Linked DNA regions of Homo sapiens: all the other regions are linked to region 1. The links come from fine-mapping of genetic effects on gene expression. A gene starts in region 1. Each other region holds a variant in brackets. All regions are shown on one strand. Distances are between the middles of the regions. Region 1 holds the start of CC2D1B (coiled-coil and C2 domain containing 1B). Region 2 has its middle 22 kb from the start of TUT4. Region 3 overlaps ZFYVE9 (zinc finger FYVE-type containing 9). Region 4 overlaps NRDC (nardilysin convertase). Region 5 overlaps ZFYVE9 (zinc finger FYVE-type containing 9).

Region 1 (5,000 bases):
ATCAGCCTGGGCACATAGCAAAAACATGTTTCTACAAAAAAAAAAAAAAAAATGCTGGGCATGGTGGCACGTGCCTGTGGTCCCAGCTACTCAAGAGGCTGAGGTGAGAGGATTGCTTGAGCCTGGGAGGTGCAGGTTGCAGTGAGTGGAGATCGCACCACTGCACTCTAGCCTGGGTGACAGAATGAGATCCTGTCTCAAAAAAAAAAAAAAGAAAAAAAGTAAGCAATCAGGAGATGGAAAAGCCCTTTGTCCAAGTAAACTGGGAGATCGCTAACTAGAAAACATAATTTAAAAGTTCAAGGCATAGGCAGGAGAGGAGATGGCAATGTTTTAGACAGAAGAAACTAATCCAGCAGTTTAACTTTAAAATACATTTTAAAACTTTTTTTCCTTTCTCTTGGGTTTCAAGATACAACCTTGAAGCAAACTGCAAAAGCCTTTTCCCTTAGCTGTAAAATAGACCCCATATCCCTCCCTTTCTCACTGTATATACTCCCTTCACATTTATCTTACTGTATGCTAGTATTTAATTATCTGCCTTCTGAGAAGTTCCAAGGGCTAATCTTGAGACAGACAAACCAAGCCTGGAGACACAGCTGCAAAATTCCAAAGATTACTTCAAGGTGGCTAGTCAACAGCGGGGCCATTGTGGAGATGAGACCAGCCCACGCTCCAGGTAGGCTGGGACCCAAGATAGCCACCAGAACAAGACACACAGACGTTGTACTCTGTACAATTCTTGCATGCTTCCCATATCAAATTTTCCTTTTAAGCCGTTCTCTTTCCCCCCAAAATCGAAGTGGTTACTTTAGATGGGAATCTGGCCACTTCCCCATTACTCCGCTCTCGGTTTTTTTGTTTGTTTTAGTTTGAGACAGGGTCTCACCTTGTCACCCGGGTTGGAGTGCAGTTGACAGCTCATTGCAGCTTGGACCTCCGGGGCCACAGCGATTCTCCTGCCTCGGCCTCTCAGTAGGTAGGACTACAGGCACGCACCACCACACCCGGCTAATATTTGTAATTTTTTGTAGAGACAGGGTTTCGCCATGTTGCCCAGGCTGGTCTCGGACTCCTGAGCTCAATCTCTTGTTAACTGGACTCTGCAAGCCGCAGGGAGAAACGTGCTTTCCTTAGAAAACTAGACTAGAGCATATTTACTGATGCTAAAGAGGTTGGTTTTGTATTTCCCTGGGCAAATAATTCTCTCTGAGCCTCCGTTTCTTCTAGAGATGATGTCCATCTTGCAGGATTGAGAACTGGTATAAGCTCCATTATGAAAAGTGACTGACACAAGCTTGGCAGAAAACGGGTATACTCCGTTTCTCTCCTTAATATCCTCCATGCCATTTGATTGCACAGCAGGGTAGGCGAGTGAGAACTTAGTGTTAGACTCTGTAAAGTATTTAAGATGTGCAGCGAGCTCTGCCTGTCTGAAGTTTTCAACGGACCGGAAAAGGATACTTTCAGGTGCTGAATTATTAAGAAACATATGGTGGGCCCCATTTCCATTTCCCCAGGCTTAAAGGACATGGACAAGCAGGTGAGCCCCGCCCCTGTCTCTCTTCCAGGGCGGAGCTTGGGTAGGCCCCGCCCTCTTGCTCGGTGGGGCGGGGCGAGGGCTGGAGGCGGGGTAGGTCCAGCGAGCGAGCGAGCGCCCAGCGCCTCGGGCTGAGTGAGGGAGGAGGTTCGGTGGAGAGGCTGCAAGTGGGCGAGGGCTGGGCGCAGCGACCTCATTGGAGCCGGCCGGTGGACGCCCCGGCGGAACCGCCCAGAGTTCCTGTCCTGCGCTACCTACCCGAACGCGCCTGCGCGCTGCGAACCCCGCCCCGGTGTCACCTGTTGGAGCCCCCCGCCCGCGTAGCCGTGCACATGCGCACTGCCGGCCGCCGGCCAGTGGGGTCACGTGTTGCGCGCGAGCCACCTCCCCTGCTGGCGCTTCCTGTCGCTACCGCTGCGGCCCAGGGCCCGCGGGAGCCCAGGGCGGTGCCGGGTGAGACAAGGCCGGGGTTTGGCTCGGATTCACCGCGAGGTATGCCGCGTCCCCGCCCCTCGGCGTGGGGAGTTCTGGGGACCGCGGGGGTAGATGGAGGCGGCGCGGGCGGGGCAGGGCGGCGCGTCCCGCAGCGCGGGAGTGGGGGTCCCGTGTCGCCTCCCCCTACGGACTCCGTTGCCCACCTTCCGTGAGGCCTGGCTGTGTCATCGGGGCCGCAGCCTTGGAGTGTCTGGCCTCGCTTTCACCTGAGCCGGAGTCACTCCCGAAATCTGACACTCAGAGTCCCCCGGAGCGCCCGCCAGCTCCTCCGCCCGCTCCCCGCCGCCTCCACGCCCGTCAGCTGGTCTCCCCGCCAGCGCTGTGGCGAGATGCGCCGGCTTCCTGCCTTTTCCCCCTACCTTCTGTGCACCTCCCCTTTGGTGCCAGAATGGGGTTTCTGAAACACCGATACGATCCCGCCACTTCTTTCCCAGCGCCCTCAGAATAATGCCCAAACGCTTTTCGGCTTAGAGGTTTTCATATTCTGCCGCTTGCTCACATTTCCACCTCGGCTTGTGCATTCAGGCCTCACCGCTTATGCCCCAGTCATACCAGGCCTCAGGTTCCATTGTACAGGCCAAGCTGCTCCCCACTTCAGAGCCGTCAAGTGTTCCCTCGTCTTGGAATCCTATTTCCCTCTTTCCCCCAACTTCTTTGCGTGACTCAGCTCAGGCGTCACCGCCTCGAAGGAGGAGCCTTTTCTCCCAGGGCTGAAGAAGGGGTCACCTCAGGGCACCCATGGCCCCTGGGGCAACCCCGTGTAGTCCACCTCCACCCTGTAAATGGTCATTGAAGGCTGAGACCGTCTTAGGTTCATTTCTGCGCTCCCAGTGCCCAGCGCAAGGTCTGACACAGGAGGTCCTGTGAATAACTGTGAGATCTTTATGGGAATCAGAATGCTGAGCCAGCTTTCTCCAGAGCTCAGCTGTGAGATGGAACTTTGATGACATGTCCTTGGATGATGAAAATGTTCTGTGTGTGTGCTGTCTGGTCATAGCCCCTCACCACATATGGCTGTTAAGCACTTGGAATGTGTCTGTTGTGGCTGATGGACTGGATTTTTAGCTTTATTTCATTTTAATTCATTGAAATTTAAAATTAAATAGCCAGCTGTGGCTTCCATAAGCACAGCTTTAGAGCCTTTCTGAATTCTACCCAGCCTTCCACCCACCCTGAACCTAGAGTACTTCCCTGAATGTGCTTTTTAAATTTGAGTCCGTTCAGAACATTCCTCAGTAAACCCATTAACAGGTGATCCCCATCCCTCCCATGGCCTGTGCTGCTTCAGTGCTTTAATTAAAGGTAACCCATACTTTGGTGTTCAGCATTGCCTTCTTTGGGAGTTTACTATCCACACCTTACCACGGGTAGCACTGTTGGGGGCGTGGCTTATGGGCTACTCCAGCCTGAATCTCTGTAACTCTTCCATAGGTATCTAGGCTGCCATGATGCCAGGGCCAAGACCTCGGAAGGGCCCTCAGGCCAGAGGCCAAGGGGTGGCCGCTGCCAAGCAGGTATGGAACTTAGCCTTCTAGGCTACTGGGTCGGTTTGGGGATGGGGGTCCCTAGACAACTTAGGCAAACTGGATCACATGTAGTTCCCCCATTAGTTCAGAGACTTGGAGCAGTGCCTCCTGGAGGTGGCAGAGCCCTTAGACACCCTCCTACTAGTCTCTTCCACATACAAGTGGGGAGAGGGTTCAGGAATCACCAAAGTTTAGGATGTTCTGATGGGACCTCAGTGCTCTCAAAGGTTCCTTAGATAGGGTCACAACTTTGCTTGTTAGCCAGGGATGCCAGGGCATGAGGGCTGTAGTCAGTGGGAGGACTTCACTGCCTAGGGACAGATGGCTGTGCCCCAAGTGGAAGAACAGGGGGGTCTCCTCTCCAATTTTCTTCCTTTATTTCTTCTGGGCCTACATCTTGAGACTTCTTAGTCCATTTTTACTGTCTTTAAAAAGGCAGGTAAGAAAGGAGGTGGGGTAAAGGGCATAGACTCAAGTCGCAAAGAGCTTGTTTTAAATTCTGATTGTCTCACAAGACTGTCTCAGTTTCATCTGAACATTGGGATAAAAACAGAATGTAAGCTGGGTGCCGTGGATCACGCCTGTAATCCCAGCACTTTGGGAGGCCGAGGTGGGTGGATCACCTGAGGTCAGGAGTTTGAGACCAGCCTGGCCAACATAGTGAAACCCCATCTCTACTAAAAATACAAAAATTAGCTGGGCGTGGTGGCATGTGCCTGTATTCCCAGCTTCTTGGGAGGCTGAGGCAGGAGAATCGCTTAGACCCGGGAGGCAGAGGTTGCAGTGAGCCAAGATAGTGCCACTGCACTCTAGCCTGGGCGACAGAGCCAGACTCTGTCTCAGAAAAAAAAAAAAAAAAGGATGTACCTCTACCTAGAGTAGTCATATTCATGGAAACAGAAGAATGGTGCTTACCAGAGGCTGGAAGGAGGGGAGGAAGGGGGGTTAATGTTTAATGGGTAGAAAGTTTGTTTCACAACATGAAAACAGTTCTGTGGATGGATGATGGCGATGGTAGCAGGATATTGTGAATGTCCTTATGCCATTGAACTCACCCTTAACAGTGGTTAAGATGGTAAATTTCATGTTGTATGTGTTTTACCAGAGTTTAAAAAAATAGGACCTTCTTTTTTTTTTTTTTTTTTGAGACGGAGTCTCGCTGTGTCGCCCAGGCTGGAGTGCAGTGGCGCCATCTTGGCTCACTGCAAGCTCCATCTCCCGGGTTCACGCCATTCTCCTGCCTCAGCCTCCCGAGTAGCTGGGACTACAGGCGCCCGCCACCGCGCCCGGCTAATTTTTTGCATTTTTTAGTAGAGACGGGGTTTCACCGTGTTAGCCAGGATGGTCTCCATCTCCTGACCTCGTGATCCACCCGCCTCGGCCTCCCAAAGTGCTGGGATTACAGGCGTGAGCCACCGCGCCTGGCCAAAAAATAGGAC
Region 2 (5,177 bases), 210 kb before region 1:
AGAGTATGGGACGCAAGAAGAAACAGAGCTTGTTGGAGGTCAGTTCATTTAGGACTTTGTGGTCATGCTGGAGTATTCACAGATCCTCTGGGCCTGGCTTTGTTCTCAGTATGAGGAATACATAGAATCGAATCAGATCTTAATGCTCTTTAATCCAAGGCCTTAAATAGCTCACAATCAGGTAGGATAGACACATTTTGACAATGGTAGTGCAGCATGATAAATATGATAATAAAGAACTGATTTTCATGGGAATTTATAGGAGTGATAATTAAGAAATAACATTATTCCATCAATTGCCTTTTAAGTTATTTCACATTGCTTCCAAATTCTTACTAAACAAGCCAATTGTAAGACTAAGTTTAGATTAATGTTACTTTTAGACACACAGAAAAATGATTTAGCCATTTAGGCTAAAAAGCAATTTCTATTACAGTTCTTGCTCTTGCTTTTTGCCTCTATACTACATCTTTCTTTTTCTTTTTTTTTTTTTTTTTGAGATGGAGTCTCACTCTGTGGTCCAGGTTGGAGTGTAGTGGTGTGATCTCGGCTCACTACAACCTCTGCCTCCCAGCTTCAAGCAATTCTCGTGCCTCAGCCTCCTGAGTAGCTGGGACTACAGGCATGTGCCACCACGCCCGGCTAATTTTTGTATTTTTCATAGAGATGGGATTTTACCACGTTGGCCAGGCTGGTCTCGAACTCCTGACTTCAGTGATCCGTCCACCTCGGCCTCCCAAAGTGTTGGGATTATAGGCATAAGCCACTGCGCCTGGCTAATACTACTTCTTTCTTTTCAACTCTCACTTATCCTTTAAGACTCTGGTGAGCTTTCCCCCTTCCACTTTACCTCAAGTAGAGTTAGAAATCTTTCCCTCTATGTCCCTGAAGGACCCTGGGATCTCTATTATAGCACTTATCACAATATACTACAAGTGTTTATTTTCCTGTATCCCCTCTAGGCTTTTATTTCCCCCAATAGAGTTCTGTATTTTTTTATTTTTTAAGAAAAAGGGTCTTGCTCTATTGCCCAGACTGGGGTGCAGGGGCACAATCATAGCTTACTGTAATTACTCATGGGCTCAAGAGATCCTCCCACCTCAGCCCCCTGAATAGCTAAGACTACAACCACACACCACCATGCCAGCTAATTTATTTATTTTTGTAGAGATGGGGTCTTGCTATGTTGCCCAGGCTGGTCTTGAACCTTTGGCCTCAAGTGATCCTCTTGCCTGGGCCTCCCAAAGCACTGGGATTATAGGAATGAATAGTGCCTGGCCTCCCACTAGACTTAAGCATAGAGATTTTGTCTTGCTCATGCTTCAATCTGTCATTCGATAAATATGTGTCAGGTACCTACTATATGCCAGACATCAGGCTAGGTGCTGCAGATTCAGTGACGACCTGGATAGACTCAGTTCTTGCTCTTGTAGAGCTTATAGTCTAGTGCAGAAGGTTGACAAGCAAATGGGCAAGAAGAGTATGTATGAAAAATGTTATGATGAGGAAAGTGTCAAGTGCCATGGGAAGCCCAGAGCAGGTGTACCTAACTTTCTTTAGGGGGCAAATGGAAGTCTTTCAGAAGGAAGCAATTTAAGCTGAGAATTGAAGAAAAAGTACAAGTTAGTTAGTCAATGTGGCAGTCATGGGTCAGAGGTGGGAGAGAGCACAACACATTCCAGAAACTGAAAGAGGACTGGGCACGGTGGCTCATGCCTATAATCCCAACACTTTGGGAGGCTGAAGTGGGAGGATTGCTTGAGTCCAGGAGTTTGAGACCAGCCTGGGCAACATAGCTAGATTTTATCTCTCCAAAAACATATTAAAAATTAGCCAGGTGTGATGATGGGCACCTGAAGTCCTACGTACTCAGGCTGGAGGCTGGAGGCTGAGGCAGGAGGCTCATTTGAGCCCAGGAGTTCCAGGCTACAGTGAACTATGATCATGCCACTACTCTCCAACCTGAGTGACAGGGTGAGACCCTGTCTCCAGCAAAACAAAACAAAGAAATTCACAGAGCAGTCGAGGTTAGGGGCAAGCAGTGAAGATTGTGTGAAGTGGGGTGTGGCCGGGGTGAGGAAAACAGAGATTGGTGTTTAGTGTGATAATTATACACATAGAAAACTCTATGTAAAGTGTTTGTTAAATGAATGGATGAGCCATTCCAAAACCTGAGAAAGAAAGACATTTGGGAAAAGCAAATTTGTTTGTGATTGTTCATTCCTTTGTTCACTGGGAGGCATTGTAGTGTGTTGGCTAAAAGTCTGGACTCACACCAACTGCTTGGGTTTGAATCCTGGCTTTGACAGTTAATAGCTGAGTGACCTTAGACAAATTACATAACTTTTCTATGTGCCATTTTCCTCATCTGTAAGAGAGAAATGATAATAATTCATAGAATTGTCATGAAGATTAAACAAGTTAATAATATTT[G/A]TAAAGCACTTGGAATAATGCCTAGAATTAAGCACTGACTGTTTGCTATTATTATTCCTCCATTCATTGAAACATTTATTGAGGGCCAAGTACCATGCTAGGTGCTGTGAAAATATGTGGCTTCAGCCATGGAGGAGGACCATAAAATCTGGTGAGGGAGAAGATTCATAAATAAGCAATTACAACACAATGTGATCAAGTGAGGCGATAGTGGTAAATCCTGCAGAACTGAACAAGACAGAGTGACTCATTCTCTCCAAAGAAGCCAAGGGAAGCTTCAGAGAGAAGAATGTATTTAAGTTGGGTGACGCAGAATGAACAGAGTTTGGCAGCAGACAAAAGCAGTATGGTTTATCAGGCCAAGGAAGCACCATGTTGCAAAGGTTTAGTAGGATGCAAGTCTAAGGCATGTTTAGGAAATGGCAAGGGGGTCTTGAGCACCTGTTATGTGCCAGGGTCTGTGCTAGGCACTTTTTATATGTTCTTTCACTTTCCATAAGAACTTAAGAGGTGAGAATTATGGTCTACATTTTTTATGAGAAGGTGATCTGAAAGATTGAGAGACTTGCTCAAGATCGTGGAAAGCAGTGGGTCTAAATTTGAATCCAAATCTATGTGACTCTAAGGTCTGTGTTCTTTGAGGAAAGGATGGGGCCTGACAATGACCTTGTGAAGTTTTTAGTGTAGCTAAAAGTACAATACTTTTATTTATTCCTTTATTTTTTAGAGTGAGGGTCTTACGCTATTTCCCAGGCTGGAGTGCAGTGGCGCAGTCATAGCTCACTGCAGCCTCAAACTCCTGGGCTCAAGCGAGCCTCCTATCTCATCCTCCCGAGTAGCTACGACTATAGGCATGCATCACCATGCCCAGCTAATTTTTAATATTTTTTTGTAGAGACAGAATCTTGTTTTGCTGCCTAGGCTTGTGTTGAACTCCTGGCCTCAAGCAATCCTTCCTCCTTGGCCTTCCAAAGTGCTGGGATTACAGGTGTGAGCCACCACTCCCGGCCCAATATTTTTATTTTAAATTTTAATAATGTTGGATGGCAATCTTGTTAAGTAGGCACTTGGTATTTCTCAGTCGTCATAAATGGAAAAAACTGACCTTAAATTAAACTTTTTTTTTTTCAATATTCAGTTTCTTTTAATGATCCCCATCTCCTTAAAGAACAGGTACAGGAAGCAAGGCAATGGCAAGAGCTGTTTACTTGAAGATCTTGCCCTGACTGAAGTTAGCCCACATGCTGGAAGGCCCTTTTCCAGGAACAGTACTCACAAACCAGTGTCTGGGTCTCCTTGCTGCCAGGATCCAGTTTCTGCCACGTGTATGACTCGAAGACCACCTGCCAATCTGGACTCAGTGTCAAGGCCTGTGAAGACCCAGGCTCCAGAAATGGAGCTGATATTGTTGCTTCCAAAGAGGATGGCACTGGCAAAGGCATTCTTTCTCAGTTTGTTCAACTGCTGGAACATTCCAGCGATGAGATTGCAACTCCAGAAGGTCTGGGTGAGCTTCTCAGGAAAGCAATACTCAGACCAACCATCCTTATCAGAGTGCTCCCGAAAATACGGCAGCACCACATTGTGTCCTTATAGGAGTACTTGTGCTTAAATTCATCCATCACAAAGGTACTCGGGCAAGTGAGCAAAGGGGTCTTGGCTATCCGATGCTCAGCAGCCAGTGCCTGCTCACATTCATCCATCTCCTCAGGAGCAGGGTCAGCCGCCTTTTTCTCCTTTCTGTTCAGCCTAGGGCTTCTGCTTTTCTTCCCGTGAACTTTTCTCCTGTGGGGTGTCCTTTTTAGGCCTGCTCTCTGCAAATATTTTAGCATCAAATAGGGCCATTTTCTCCTATCATTTTACTTCCCCCAAGACAGCCTGGAACTGGGGCTGGTTAATGCAGGTGAGAAAGTTAGTATCATGACCACTATTTGTGATTCTGTGATGTTCTGTGTTAATATCCTGAGGGTTTGTTAGGGGATTTCCCTTTTATACGTGTGTTTCCCAAATTGTCTTTTGAGGAGCCCTGGGGTGCCCTAGCTAACTGAGGGCTCTAGAGGATATTTTGACATTTTAGGAGAAATACAAGCTGGGCGCAGTGCCTCATGCCTGTAATCCCAGCACTTTGGGAGACCCAGGAGGGTGCATCACTTGAGGCTAGGAGTTCCAGACCAGCCTAGACAACAAGGCAAAATCCCGTCTCTACAAAAATCAGTTGGGCATGTTGGCGCACACCTGTAACTCCAGCTACTTGGGAGGCCAAGGCATGAGAATGGTTTGAACCTAGAAGGTAGAGGTTGTAGTGAGCTGTAATCGCGCCACTGCACTCCAGCCTGGGTGAGACAGCGAGACTCCATGTTAAAGAGAGAGGGAGAAGGGAGAGGGGAGAAGGGAGAGGGGAGAGGGGAGAGGGAGATTCAATATATGTCTGATACCACACAAGCTTGAGTTCAAGGTTTAAACATGTCTCTGGATGATGTCATGTCTTTTTGAAGCTGAGTTTTCAGAGGTTGCTGTAATAAAAAGCAAGTACCAAGTGAAAATCACTGTGGAACAATAAATGACTGTAGCAGCATACGATGAGATCCCAAAGTTTGAGAAGGGAATTGCTAAACAGGCACATACATCCCTTAGCACATAATTATGAATATTTAAGAATAAAAACTGGCTGGGCACAGTGGCTCATGCCTGTAATCCCAGCAATTCTGTTACCAGTGGAAGGTGCCCAGATTCTTGGCTTCTTG
Region 3 (5,177 bases), 87 kb after region 1:
ACTCCGTCTCAAAAAAAAAAAAAAAGAAAAGAAAAGAAAAGAAAAATGATTGAAATGGAAGTAAAAGAAATAATAATAAAACGCACTTAAAACTTTTAACTCCTATTAAAAGAAGCAACATTCTATTAATACTAAAATAAAACCAAACTATGTATTGTAAGCCAAACGTGATTGAAGAACATAGTCCTCCACCTTTATATTTTAAAAAATCACATCATCGAAGGAAGTAATTACCAATGTAAGGCTAGAAGTAATTACAACAAAAGCCAATAATATAGCTTTATCTTCAGGTTGTGACCTAAAGGAAATATATTTTTATGTATATTTATTAAATTTAATATATGACCAAGAGATTCCAGCTATTTTAACTATAGTCCTTTCCAGGAAAAAATTCTAGATAATCAGCAACATGACTTTACTTGGCTTCATGCTGTAAAAATTAGTGAAAAGGATGGCTTTTCTGAACTACTTAGTTCCACTCCTTCACTTTAAGGCTATATGGAGAGTATGAACAGCAGAAACCATATGTAGTCAAAAACAATGTTTAATCCTTGACACTTTTACTCTTCATACCCCAACACAATGGGATCCCCAAAGGAACTGAAAAAGGACTCAAATAAAATTATGAATACCACCATGTAAATCAAAACAAATGTTAATCAAAAAAACAAAGACATCTTTATTTCACTTTGGGAATCCTTGCTTTATGTACCTAAATAGGACATTCCTCATGATGGTATATACTTCAAGAATCTAGGTTAGCTAATTTTTTTTTTTTTTTTAAACAGGGTCTCACTCTGTCATTCAGGCTGGAGTGCAGTGTCATGATCTCGGCTCACTGCAACCTCCGTCTCCTGGGCTCAAGAACTCCTCCCACCTCAGCCTCGAGAGTAGCTGGGACTACAGGAGCATGTCACCATGCCCAATTTTTTTTTTTTTTTTTTTTGGTAGGGATGAGGTTTCACCATGTTGCCCAGGCTAGTCTCGAACTCCTGGGCTCAAGTGATTCATCTGCCTTGGCCTCCCAAAGCACTGGGACTACAGGTGTGCACCATGGTGCCTGGTCTTAGGTTAGCTAATTTCTAAGCATAATTTATAAACTAGATATGGCAAATTGAAATTTCAAGCAAATTCATTTTAAATCTGATCCTAGAAGGTAGCAAGCATTAATAACTGGCCAAACATACAAGAGTGTGATTAGCAAGTAAGCCAGAAACCCACATTTCATCAATGTAGAACTTCTAAGGAAGTAGTATATGTTTCTGGTTTCCAAAATCAACTTAAGTACACATGGAGAACTGCAGGATGGTTCCCCAGAGGTTCTGTCCTTTAAAATTGCCTATTAACACTCATTCAGAATAAATGCATTCTCTAAATAATTCTCAAAATTACTAGCTGGCGCAGTGGCTCACATCTGTAATCCCAGCACTTTGGGAGACCAAGGCAGGCAGATCACTCGAGTTCAGGAGTTCAAGAACAACCTGGGCAACATGGTGAGACTCCTGTCTCTACAAAAAAATACAAAAAAAATTAGCCAGGTATGGTGGTGTGCACCTGTAGTCTCAGCTACTTGGGAGGCTGACGTGGGAGAACTGCTTGAGCTCAGGAGGCAGAGGTTGCAATGAACAGAGATCATGCCACTGCAATCCAGCCTGGGTGACAGAGTGAGACTCTGTCTCAAAAAATTCTCAAATACTGTCGTCTTTCTCATCCTGATGCCCATGATGCTAGCACCAACAATTGAGAAGTTTCTTCTGAATCTCAATTTATGATGTATTGAAGCTTTACTGTGTGTTAGTTAACACTTTTCCTAAATAAAGTTTTGCACCATAATTGAGGTTTCTGGGATTAAAACACAGCATGTAAATTATTTGAGTAGCCTGTATAATTTATCTACCACCAGTTATTCTGGTGGTAAGTTGTGATTTAACATACTCATCTCAAGAAGAACTTAACTCAGATAAGTTCAAGATTTGTTTGGCTTTCATCCATGGAGAATTCACCTACCTCACCCCTGTAACTAAATGTGAGAGTTTCGGTTAGTTCCACAGCTGTCCTCTGGGATATATCATTTTATAAAAACCAACTTTTTCAGAACTCAGTGTTCAGTAAGATGTGGCTAGGCCAGGCGCGGTGGCTCATGCCTGTAATCCCAGCACTTAGGGAGGCTGAGGCGGGCGGATCACCAGGTCAGGAGATCAAGACCATCCTGGCTAACACAGTGAAACCCTGTCTCTACTAAAAAAAAAACAAATACGAAAAATTAGCCGGGCGTGGTGGCGGGCACCTGTTGTCCCAGCTGCTCAGGCAGGAGGCTGAGGCAGGAGAATGGCGTGAACCCGGGAGGTGGAGCTTGCAGTGAGCCGAGATGGTGCCACTGCACTCCAGCCTGGGTGACACAGCGAGATTCTGTCTCAAAAAAAAAAAAAGAAAAAAAAAAAGATGTGGCTCTATATAAAAATACTTGTGTGTAATAAATCTGAAAGTTTTATGTACTATGAGTCAGTAAAACATCTGATTTTAATTTTTAAAAATTTATAACTTACAATTTACAATTTTAACCATTGACAACAAATTTGCATTTAAAACAAATACAAGTGGGTCAGGGCCACCATCCTCCAACTGCTGCATTACTGAAATCTGTGATGGTTTCTCTTCCACAGCATAGTCTGAAAGGGGAGAAAACAATGTAATAGATTGGTTAAAGGAACAAATCAAGAAAGAGATCAGATGGAGAAATGAGCTAATTATTCACAGAAAAGAGACATGCATTTGATTTATCAATAGGTGCATACAGAGCATGGTTTGTA[T/C]CTGCTGGCTCAGTATCAAATTAATAGTGCCCTCTTTTACTCTCAAAAGTGACCCAGTCCACCTTAGATGATAATGTGGTTATCCTGTGTATAGACCTCTCCCCACAGTGGTTTGTGCCACAATCTAAAGACTACCTTTCTATTTAATAAAAATTTTCCAACTATTATAACAAGAATTTCACATAATAAATGTTCAAGACCAGCATTTAAAATAACTCATGATATACAAGAAAGTGATAATATACTAGTTACCTCTGGAAAGGATATCAAATAGTTGGGGTAGAAGAGAGCCCTACCTTTTACTCTATGACCTTTTGTACTGTTTGACATTTTTGACAATTAAAAACTTAAACTTTAAAAAATGAACCCAGAAAATAAAAGTATTGTGTGTGACTGGCTTCATAAAACAATTCCTTTAAGTATAATTTAAGAGTTTAGTACATATGTCACTAAAATCATCAGTAAATCACACATAAGATTCTGAACATGAACAAGTTAATACTGAATGTAACTCTTCTCATTTAATCTCTGGAAGCACAGTATGTGCTTCAGCATCTCATTTTGAATGACAGTGGTCCTTTCAGCTTGAAGTCAAATCATGCGTAATAATCACTGTAGAACCTAGAGATATGGGAAAGGAACTGAAAACCTAAAAGTTGAATGTTGCTTGGTTGGTCTTATATAAAATGCATATTTGAGGGACAGTCAGGTAGAACAAAGTAACATCATTTCCCATTTTCTAATGGAAATTTTAAAATGGATTTTTTGGATACAATGGGAAATATCTACTCCATTATTAAAAATATTTATTGGAAAGAGAAATCCTGAGTTTAAAATTTTTTAAGTAAAGTCATCCCACTGGAATAAAAAATTACAAAATTTTGATGAAGAGACTGTAATATAGTTTAAGTAATATAGATAATTCACTGTTCTTTCTTGGTAGGAGAAGTTTTGACAATTAGATTTAACGGACATAACTTTTTATGAAAATGGAATCCAACAATCTGACTCTTTTTAACAACAGAGTAGGCCAATTTAGTTCCCTGTTAATCTAAGATTTATTAAAATAAAAATCTGAACCCTAAGCAGCAATTTTACTAACAATAGATATTTTTACAATAGATAATTTTACTAACAATAGGTATTTTACTAACAATAGAATCCAACAATCTGACTCTTTTTAACAACAGAGTAGGCCAATTTAGTTCCTTATTAATCTAAGATTTATTAAAATAAAAATCTGAACCCTAAGCAGCAATTTTACTAACAGTAGATATTTTTACAGGGTCCTGGTAAAGAAGCAAAAGCATTATGCAGTCAAAAGAATGCTTAACTGTATGTGAAAGTTCACTGCTGAACTATCTGGGACATAGCTGCATTTGAGAGTACAATATAGACAGCATTTGCTGAGAGCCTACTACAGGCCTAGCACCATGCAAGGAGCAGTAAATGCAAGTATAAAATAAGATGAAGAATTTCATAGTCTAAGTGAAAGAATACGATCTGAAAATATAATATCTAAATTGCAATGAGAAAAAGTGTTAATGTAGCCAACAGTCTATAGGAACCACTATTAGAACAGAGATAATGAAGCAAATCACTATTTTCTAAGCAGCCCAGGTAAGGATTCAGAGAAGAATTAACCATTAAGCTGGATTTTAAAAGGTTGAGGAGTTCTTCAGGAAGTCTACAGTAGAGAGGGGTATTCTAGGCAGAAGAAAGGAAGAAATGGAAAATATTAATTACATGCCTACTTTATGCCAGATACTTTCTTGGTATGTACTTACAGGTATGATATCTAACTTAATAACCACAATGACTTTTAAGTAGGTGTAGTTATATAATTGTTTTAAATAAAACAGACTAGGAAACAAATTCAGAGAGGATGAATGACTTGCCAACTGGATCACACAGCTAGAATGGAACGGTACTGGCATTAAAAGTCAGGTTTGTTCAATTCTGAAGTCCATTCTTTCCCATTATTCCACAGCACAAGAAAAAGTACAGAAGAATGAAAAGTAAATATTCAAAAAATAGCAAATAATCTGCAGTATACATGTAAGGTGCTGGGGAATAGCTGGAAATAAAGTTGATAATAAATGGCTAGAAAGACAGGCTGAGATAAGGTTATAAGAAACATTGTCAGACCGGGCATGGTAGCTCACGCCTGTAATCCCAGCACTTTGGGAGGCCGAGGTGGGCAAATCACCAGGTCAAGAGTTCAAGACCAGCCTGGTCAACATAGTGAAACCCTGTCTCTACTAAAAATACAACAATTAGCCGGGCATGGTGGCATGCACCTGTAGTCCCAGCTACTCAGGAGACTGAGGCAGGAGAACTGCTTGAACCCGGGAGGCGGAGGTTGTG
Region 4 (5,000 bases), 530 kb after region 1:
TGTAGTGAGCTACAGTCACACCACTGCACTCCAGCCTGGGTGACAGAGTTTGTTTGAGACCCTGTCTCAAACAAAACTTTATTTGGAGAAAAAAGCTGTTAAACTGTTAAATACACTTTGACTCTTGTTCTATTATATATAGTCTTTGTATTAAAGATTAAAATAAAAGTCAACACCTTTTGGGTTTTATTAATTTTATTAATTATGTATTCTCTGTTGACTCATTATGACTTTTTTTTTTTTTTTTTAAGAGATATGGTCTTGCCATGGTGCCTAGGCTGGAGTGCTGTGGTGCAATTGGCCATCAATTGCATGAATGCATGGCTCAGTGCAACCTCAGCCTCCCAGGCTGAATGTGCCACCGCTCCCAGCTAATTTTTAAATTTTTTTGTAGAATTGGGAGTCTCTCTGTATTGCCCAGGCTGGTTTCAAACTCCTGGCCTCAAGTGATCCTCCTGCCTCAGCCTCTCAAAGTGCTGGGATTATAGGTGTGAGCCACTTTGCCCAGCCACTTAAAAAACAGAATTTAGTAGAAAATATGGAGAAACAGAGAAGCAAAAAAGGGATAAGATTGCCTCCAACTTTATAATCTAGAGATAACCACCATTAATGTTTTGGTATAGACCCATCTATATTTTTTAAAGTATACCGATCATATTGTTCATACCCTTTTATAATTGTTAATTTTAAGCAAGATATATCATTTTAACTTACATAATTTATAAAACATGATTTTTAGTGATTGTATGTTATTTACATTGTATAGAAGTACCATAAGGTGTTTAATCAGTTACATATGATTGGACAGTTGAGTTGTTTCCAGTTTTCTAATACTGTGATGATTATCCTGATCTCTGTGAATATCCTTAATTATTTCTATTAAGTTCTAAGCAGTGAAATTGCTGAGTATATTTGCAAATATATTTTTAAGACTTTTTTTTTCTTTAAGCTTTTGAAATTCATTGCAAAATTGTTTTCCAGAAAGTTTGTCAGTACAATAGTAGAAGTTTGAGATTACAGGGTTGCAGACCAAAGTCTACCCCGGAAAAAAGTAGAAAAGTAGAAAAAAGTTATACCTAATTCTAGATATATGCAAGATTGAAATGTAAAAGAAAAAAGAAACCTCACGTTTGTCTAGTATAATGTAAGCTCCTTCAGAGCAGGAATTTTTATCTATTTTTTGTTGATACATCTGCAAATCAATAATTTGGTAGATACTCAGATTTGTTAAATGAATTAATGCAGTTCCTTTATAGCAAAAATTACCATAAAATCAAAAGATAAATGACCAAAAAAAATTTTTTTTAAACATGATAGAGATCTAATATTTTTTTTAAAAATTGGCCTGGTGTGGTGGCTCACACCTGTAATCCCAACACTTTGGGGGGCCGAGGTGGGCGGATAACTTGAGGCCAGGAGTTCGAGACCAGCCTGGCCAACACGGTGAAACCCTGTCTCTACTAAAAACACAAAAATTAGCTGGGCTTGGTAGCATGTGCGTGTAATTTCAGCTACTTGGGAGGCTGAGACAGGAGAATTGCTTGAACCTAGGAGGCGGAGGTTGCAGTGAGCTGAGATCATGCCATAGCACTCCAGCCTGAGTGACAGAGTGGGACTCTGTCTCAAAAACAAAATAAAATAAAAAAGATAAAATAAAAAGAAATTATCTCTTTTCTTAAGAGATTAATTTGATCTGGAAAAATCCTTTGGACATATTCCTATAAATTGGAAGCATATGCCACTATTTATTTATTTTTTTTTTGGAGACAGTCTCACTCTGTTGCCCAGGCTGGAGTGCAGTGATGTGATCTCGGCTGACTGCAGCCTCATGCCTATAATTCCAGCACTTTGGGAGGCCAAGGTGTGTGGATCACTTGAGCCCAGGAATTCGAGACCAGCCTGGCCAACATGGTGAAACCCCATCTCTACTAAAAATACAAAAATTAGCTGGGTGTGGTGGCGCAGGCCTGTAATCCCAGCTGCTTGGGAGGCTGAGGCACGAGAATTGCTTGAACCTGGGAGACGGAGGTTGCAGTGAGCTGAGATCGCACCACTGTACTCCAGCCTGGGTGATGGACCGAGACCCTGTCTCAAAAAAAAAAAAAAGAAAGATAAATCAATGAAGGCAATGCAAATGATGCCTGAGATGATCTTTCCTATAAATTTAGACAGGATCAGCAATACCTTCAGAGGAGACTTTAACCATACAACTTTGAAGAAAACTGCATCTTTACTCTTGTTACAGAGTTCTCAGCTCTTAAGTTTTACAGAATCCAAACAGGTCTTTGTATGTGTGAAGAAATCTTAAGCAGAAGACAAGTTGAATTTTTACAACTTTATATTTAGCTTTGTCCATATACAAAGAAGGAAAAATAACTGATTTTATTGGGAAAAAGGATAGGCAAATGGTATGTATGATATGAATACATTCTGGCCATCTCAGAGATGATGAAATTTGGTATAAAATGTAGTTAAGAAATTTGTTT[TG/G]TTTCCTTTTAAAGAGTTGTTCTAAATATGTTTTGTACAAGGACTGCTTCAGCATCTAAGAATATCACCTTACACATTTATTTTTATTTAAAAAGAAAGCCACCCAATAAGAAAGCCACTGCATTAATAGGATAAATTAATGAGAATATCAAATCATAAATTTATGCCATAAGTAGAGCATTATAGGGTGCAAATACTATAATAAATGCTATAATATTATACTTCTACAATGTATAAGGAAAAGCCTTTATACGTGTGTAATATGCTCTTATATAACATGGATTAAGTACCTGTTTTTAATAGGTTAGCAAAATCTGATTCCCTCACACAGGCCACATTGTTTATAAGTATCTTTTAAATAAACAGCTGAGGAAATGACTAAATTTTTACTCCAGTTAAGTAAGTGAGCATGGAAGCCGTCTTTACCATGGTGGCGTCTTCTATTTTCAGTAAATTTGAACTTTATTTTATCAGTATTTCATGGTAAGAGTGACAAATATCAAAGCTTAGGATGTCCACTTCTAACAGGAGACCCTCCCCATTATAAGCGGGAATACAAAATCTTCACTTTCAGGTTGTGAAAAAGGATGAGGCGTCCTGAGTAGTTATAGCCTAGATTCCAAGTGCCTGAGTATTCTGGGGAACCCCAAGTCTTGATTGTAGCTTCATGGGCAGAACTGGTAGTGTTCCCAGGAGCCTGGGAGAAGCAAACATAAGGCATCTCAAAAGGAAGATGCCTTCCTTCTAGGCCCTAAATTGTTACAAATATTTTTTCAAGTAAAATAACCAACATTCAGTCAAAAATAAGCAGGTACTCAGGAAAATAATACAACATGATTGAGAACAGATAACACAAACAGATTCTGAGACATCTCAAGTACTGGCATAGTTACACACAATTTCTAAAATAATTATACTTTCTATTTTTTAAGAAATAAAGGCCAGACGCAGTGGCTCATGCCTGTAATCTCAGCACTTTGGGAGGCCGAGGCGGGTGGATCACGAGGTCAGGAGTTTGAAACCAGCCTGGCTAATATGGTGAAACCCCATATCTACTAAAAATACAAAAATTAGCCGGGTCCGGTGGCGGGTGCCTGTAGCCCCAGCTACTTGGGAGGCTGAGGCAGGAGAATCGCTTGAACGTGGGAGGCAGAGCTTGCAGTGAGCCGAGATAGTGCCACTGCACTCTAGCCTGGGTGACAGAGCGAGACTCTGTCACAAAAAAAAAAAAAAAAAGAAATAAAAGACAAATTTGAATATACTTGCAAGGAATAAGAAACTGTCAAATATGACCTAGGAAATTTGTAAAATGAAAAGATACATCTTGAACTGAACTATGATAAAAAAAATTGAAAATGTCATGGACAAGTTTAAGAGTAAATAGAGTTGAAGATAGAATTAGTAAGCCAGAAGATAAGACAGAAGGAATTAACCCAAGTATAGCATAAAGAACATATATAACCCAAATATAGCATATAGCACAAAATTAAAAATACAAAGAATATGAAGCATAGAGGATAGAATGAAAACATCCCATGTATTTTACTTGTAGTTGTAGAAGGAGGAGAGAGAAAATTGAAGTAGAGACAACAGTTGAAGGGTTGATCACTGGAAAATTTTCAGAACCTGTTGTAAGACATCAAATCAGAGGTTAAAGTCTAATAACTTCCAAAAGGATACATTAGAAGAAATATGGAAAATTTTTGCCAGATAAAGAGAAAATTTTCTTCAAAGGAAGATGAGTTACACTTACAGATGACTACTCAACTTCGTGCTCTGAAGGAAAATAACTACCAACTAATAACTAGAATCATAAATTGTACACTAAATAAAAATATCTTTTAAGAATGTTAGTAGGCTGGGCATGGTGACTCATGCCTATAATCCCAGCACTTTGGAAGGCCAAGGCAGGTGGATCACTTGAGCCCAGCAGCTGGAGACCAGTCTGGGTAACATGGTGAGGGAAAAAAATTAGCAGGGCATGATGGTACATGCCTGTAGCCTCAGCTACTTGGGATGCTGAGGTGGGAGGATCACCTGAGCCTGGGGAGTTCAAGGCTCCAGTGAGCCGTGATGTGCCACTACACACTCCAGTCTGGGTGACAGAATTAAATAAAATTAGTTTCATTATTTAAGTCAACAGAAATTATCCAACCCATCATTAATCATACCAAGTACTGAAAAGAAAAAAAATGCCCCAATATATCTAGCAGGTAGTTAAGTTAAAAGTTACCTTATTGCAAGCAAAAGTTAAAAGTTTTTTAAAGAAGCCTGAGCAATATAGGGAGACCCTGTCTCTATAAAAAATTTAAAGATTTAAAAAAAAATGGTAGTGCACACCTCTAGTCTCAGCTACTTCGGAGGTTGAGGCAGGAGGATTGCTTGAACCCGGCAGTTTGAGGCCGCAGTGAGCAGTGATTGTGCCACTGCATTCTAGCCTGAGTGATAGAGTGAGACACTATATCCAAAAAAAAAAAAAAAAAGTTTACTAAACATTTTAGGAAATTAATTTT
Region 5 (5,177 bases), 30 kb after region 1:
CTAAGAATCAGTACAAAGCCAAAGGAGAGGCAAATGAAACACAGCACCTGGCATCTAGCAAATTCCTCCGAGTTAAATGTAAACCTTAGCTCTGCTTTCCAAAGCTGACTGATACAGAGGTTTTGCTCTTTGAGCTGAACCTCTTACTGAAAGTGTTGTGAGAAGCAATGCCAAGATTAAAACACATGCTTGTTGATTTCACTTCAGACACAACTAAGAATTTCTCCTGAGACTACTTAAGGGGAAAACTTAAACACAGTCACATTCTTCTTCTGGACACACTGAATATTTTGTTCCTGTTTTCACTCCTGCATTTATCATCCTCTGGTCATATTCATTTGTTTGCATCTCCATCTCTCTCACCTTACTATGACTGCCTGGCATACAGTGAATGCCCAATAAATGTTTGCTAAATAAATCACTGAATAAATTATAGTAGTGGGCTTGGAGATAAATCCATTTATTGACTAGCAAATAAGGCAAACCTACCACAGAGTTTCATATGGGCTACCAGATAACCAACAGATGGTAACTTTTTCAGCTGCTACCTACCTGAGTTGAAGGCAAACACTGAAATTGACAGTAAAAGTTGTCACATGCTGAGCAATTACTCTGCTTCACTGACACACAATGAAATAATTTCTAAAGAGTCTCAATAACAATTTCATAGTCAGCCAATCGCTCCACTGAAACACACAAGTGAAATGCAAGACCCAAGAAATTCCCAAGCCAGACACATAAACACATAATTTTTAAACACACTGCTTTGAATTGGTAAGGATCTGTGTCAGGTCAATTTATCTTTTTTTTTTTTTTTTTTTTTTAAGAGATGACTGCCCAGGTTGGAGCGCAGTGACTATTCACAGGGACGATCATAATGCACTGCAGCCTCAAGCTCCTGGCCTCACAGGGTCCTCCCACCTCAGCCTCCCAAGTAGCTGGTACTATAGGTGTATGCCACCATGCCCAGCTCATTTTATCATTTAACAACATTTAAGGGGTGTTTTAAAATCACCTTGTGAAGTCACAATTTCAACTATAGTCAACACTTCATCATATAGGCTTTAACTAGTTGCTTTAGACCAAATGACTGTTTAACTCCTAGATTAATTAAGCTGGGTGTGGTGGTTCACACCTGTAATCCCAGCACTTCGGGAGGCTGAGCCTGGTGGATCATTTGAGGTCAGGAGTTCAAGACCAGCCTGACCAACATGGTGGAACCCCATCTCTACTAAAAATACAAAAAAATTAGCTGGGCGTGTTGGCGCACAACTGTAATTTCAGCTACTCAGGAGACTGAGGCAGGAGAATCACTTGAGGTAGAAGTTGCAGTGAGCCAAGATTGTGCCACTGTACTCCAGCCTGGGCTACAAGCCTCCATCTTAAAAAAAAAAAAAAAAAAACAAAAAAAACCTCTTAGATTTCATAACAATTTGTTAACGGCATGTTTCTGTTTTGTAGTCAAGAGTTGTAAATTTTAGTTGTAAAATATTAGTGCACTCTGTGTTTCACTCACTGTTTTATTAAATTTACCAAAAGAAGACCAAAGCTAGTATCTATAAATATATGTAAGATTATCTACGTATTTCAATCAACACACTGGAATCCAGCCCTAAGAAAGGACCTTTTTTTTTTTTAAAGATAGAGTCTCACTCTGTCGCCCAGGCTGGAGTACAATGGCACAATCTCAGCTCACTGCAACCTCTGCTTCCCAGGTTCAAGTGATTCTCCTGCCTCAGCCTCCCAAGTAGCTGGGATTACAGGCATGCGCCACCACGCTTGGCTGTTTTTTGTATTTTTAGTTGAGATGGGGTTTCACCATGTCGGCCAGGCTGGTCTCCAACTCCTGACCTCAAGTGATCTGCCCCCCTCGGCCTCCCAAAGTGCTGAGATTACAGGCGTGAGCCACCGCACCCGGCCTAAGAAAGGACTGTTTTTACACAGAGCTTTGGAGTGAGCTACTGTAAAAATGAAAACCTGTCATCATGTGAGGCAGACTACATTTTCCATAAATGGTCATATCTCCCATCTCATTTTTCTACAATGCTATCTTCCCATTCTCCCATGTAGAAGTGAAGTCTAATTTCCCTCCCTTTTTCCAACACCAGAGTATGGTGGAAATGACACAATATAACTTTAAAGGGTGGGTCACAAAAGGCAATGCAGCTTCCACCTTCTTGCTAGAACATTCATGTTTGGAGTCCTGAACCACCATGTAAAAAGTCCAGCTATCCCAATGGTATCAAGCCATGTTAAGGAGTCCCCACGTAAGTACCCCAGTCACCACTCCTAGTCTTTAAATCATCCCAGGCCAGGCCTCAGACGTGTGTGTGAACAAACCTTCATATAATTCTAGCTCCCAGTCATCAGATAACTTCAAGT[G/C]ATCCCAACTAAGACTCCAAACATCATGAAGCAGTGTTAAGCCATCCCTGCATTGCCCTGTCAAGATTACTGATCTAGAGGATAAGCAAGCATGATAAAATGGTTGTTTTAAGCCATCTGTTATGAAATAAGAGTAGCAAAATCAAAACACAATGAATAACCAACAAAGAAAATAAACGGTGTGCCAATTAGCTTTTAGTTTAATTAACTTTTGTCAACATATGTGTCATGTCTAATTATAGCACACTAGCAGCAAGCACATGCCATTTTGTACTCCAAATGATGACCACAGCATTCTTGTGGACAGGACTTTCATCTACACATTTAGATATTAATATTTCCACCCAATGATATATTTGAACTCAGACTACATGCCCTCAGGTACCTTATCCCAGAGCTCTGAAAGGCCATCTCCTAGTTTTAATGTCATTGTCACATGGTATCCCTACCACTTACTCCTTTCTTCAGAGAACTAAGCACTCTCATGGCAGTTTTAATTTGCTGAAGAGATGCTACTGAAAAAACAGTAGGAGTCAGACATCTACAGCAGAAGTGTAAAGGATTCCCTTTATGTACATAAGTTCAGTCCTTATTATGAGGACTGAACAATTCATTCTTTACCTTCCACAATACTGGACTTGGCAAGGTATCCAGAAGAGGATTTCAGAGCGCCACTGAACACAAAGAAACTGGCACCAGTCACTAAAACAGCAATAGAAATAGTTTAGTAAGACAGACCCTAAGCTGGAGGGATTGAAAATAATAACAAAATATTCAGAAGTTGAGAATTCCGACCATCATCACACAGAAAATTTTAAAAAATCAAATCTATATTCCACAATAAACATGTAACCAACAATTCTGATGCTTACAACAGCTTTGGGAACTAGGTTTTAAGATACACTCCCCCATTTTGTTTTGTTCTTCCTCTAATTAAGAATCCAAGTATCTTACAAGAAAAGGAATCTTAATGGTTGAGGTCAGGGGGTTGGCAAGCTATAGCCTGCCTGGCCTCCAGCCTGCTTTTGTAAATAAAATTTTATTGAAACACAGCCATGTCCATTCATTTACTTATTGTCTATGGCAGTTTTTGCACTATAATACTAGAGCCGAATAGTTGTTGACAAAAACCACAGCTTGCAAAGTCTAAAATATTTATCATTTGGCCCTTCACAAAAAAAGTTTGCCACCCCCAATCTAATCCATTGATTTTCAGATTTTTTTAGATCAAATATATTCTGAAGATAGAAATATGGTTGCCAACTATTTTATCTGCTAAGTTTTTTTTTTTTTTTTTGAGACGGAGTCTCGCTCTGTCACCCAGGCTGACGTGCAGCGGTGCTATCTCTGCTCACTGCAAGCTCCACCTCCTGGGTTCACGCCATTCTCCTGCCTCAGCCTCCCGAGTAGCTGGGACTACAGGCATGTGCCAGCATGCCCCGCTAACTTTTTTGTATTTTTAGTAAAGATGAAGTTTCACCACGTTGGTCAGGCTGGTCTTGAACTCCTGACCTTAGGTGATCCACCCACCTCGGCCTCCCAAAGTGTTGGGATTACAGGCGTGAGCCACCATGCCCTGCTTTTTTTTTTTTTTTTTTAAGAGACAGGGTCTTGCTATGTTGCCCAGGCTTGTCTTGAACGCCTTAGCTCAAATGATGCTCTCGCCTTGGCCTCCCAAAGTGCTGGGATTACAGGCATGAGCCACCGCGGCTGGCCTAACACGGGGTTTCTTAGATTAAATCTATTAAACAAGACTTATTTTTTCATGTGAAGTTTTTAACACCATGGTGCCTGAGAAAACACTTTGGGTAACGCCTCTTGAGCAATGCTTCTCAAAGTCGAATGTGCACTTGAATCACACAGAGATCTCGTTAAAATGCAAATTTTGATTAGTGAATCTGGGGTGTGGAGACCACATTCTGAATAGCACTGAAACCTCCTTCAGAATCCTGTCAAGTTAATTAGCATTCTGTGGGAATGGTCATCCAACAAGCTTCAAATTTACCTAAACATACTCTCATTATGGGGCCTAGTCGTGCCTTCAAATGCCAGAGCTGGCCCTTGTCAATATCCTAAGGGCATATTTTTTTTTTTTTTTTTAATTATTATACTTTAAGTTCTAGGGTACATGTGCACAACATGCAGGTTTGTTACATACGTATACACATGCCATGTTAGTTTTGCTGCACCCATCAACTCGTCATTTACATTAGGTATTTCTCCTAATGCTATCCCTCCCTCCTAAGGGCATATTTTCAAAATTGTTCCCTCAATAACACATATCCCATTTGCAACTCTGAGTCTGGCCACTTGGGGAGTCAACATAATCCTGAAGAATATGGTTGGAAAGGTTAATTAATTTGTTTGTGGTCACCTATCTAGAAAGTGAGTGTTACGGGACTGAGGTATCTAACTGTCCAAGTCCAGTATAATTTTCCATTATCATAATCTCAACCAGCTCAAATGCTCACCTTTTCTGGGCTGATTGTGAATACTGATAGCCTGGGTCTGATAGTTTCCATCATCATTCTGTACACACACAAGATGAGAGTCTGCCTTTTCATTGAAGCAGGCACCTCCTGCCAGGACATGCTCATTGGACTTGTTCATGGCTTTCATCATCTGCAATCAAAGAGATAACCTTATTCTGACAAGAATGGGCATTTTTCTGTCTGACATGGTGCAACTCCATCTTCTCAAAAACAAAACTAACAGAATATTACGTATTAAAGTGACAAAAAGGGCCACCAAATAATGAAACAAAGTAAAAAAATGTCACCATTAACAAATCAATG

The links. PIP is the estimated chance that this variant, and not a neighbour inherited with it, causes the effect. A credible set is the group of variants that fine-mapping cannot tell apart.
Region 2: its variant is the best candidate, but not a certain one, in a credible set for the expression of CC2D1B in testis (GTEx, PIP 0.82).
Region 3: its variant is the best candidate, but not a certain one, in a credible set for the expression of CC2D1B in T cells (TOPMed, PIP 0.64).
Region 4: its variant is the best candidate, but not a certain one, in a credible set for the expression of CC2D1B in whole blood (TOPMed, PIP 0.54).
Region 5: its variant is the best candidate, but not a certain one, in a credible set for the expression of CC2D1B in whole blood (INTERVAL, PIP 0.87).

Annotation. Positions count from the first base shown.
Region 1 is chr1:52,363,101-52,368,100 of GRCh38, reverse strand. CC2D1B (coiled-coil and C2 domain containing 1B) reads left to right here and starts at 1,896. Exons shown (of 25, transcript NM_001330585.2): 1 at 1,896-2,032; 2 at 3,467-3,549. The coding sequence starts at 3,481. RefSeq lists silencers at 1,517-2,146, 2,187-2,296.
Region 2 is chr1:52,572,282-52,577,458 of GRCh38, reverse strand. It overlaps the pseudogene EEF1GP7. Among named protein-coding and RNA genes, the nearest start is that of TUT4, 22 kb to the right of the region's middle. The variant G/A (reference allele first, on the strand shown) is at 2,434.
Region 3 is chr1:52,275,984-52,281,160 of GRCh38, reverse strand. ZFYVE9 (zinc finger FYVE-type containing 9) reads right to left here. Exons shown (of 19, transcript NM_004799.4): 9 at 2,547-2,669. Among named protein-coding and RNA genes, the nearest start is that of CC2D1B, 88 kb to the left of the region's middle. The variant T/C (reference allele first, on the strand shown) is at 2,811.
Region 4 is chr1:51,828,689-51,833,688 of GRCh38, reverse strand. The region is part of intron 4 of NRDC (nardilysin convertase); the gene reads left to right. Among named protein-coding and RNA genes, the nearest start is that of MIR761, 5.2 kb to the left of the region's middle. The variant TG/G (reference allele first, on the strand shown) is at 2,487.
Region 5 is chr1:52,332,595-52,337,771 of GRCh38, reverse strand. It overlaps ZFYVE9 (zinc finger FYVE-type containing 9), which reads right to left. Exons shown (of 19, transcript NM_004799.4): 14 at 4,854-5,004; 15 at 3,004-3,084. Among named protein-coding and RNA genes, the nearest start is that of CC2D1B, 31 kb to the left of the region's middle. The variant G/C (reference allele first, on the strand shown) is at 2,383.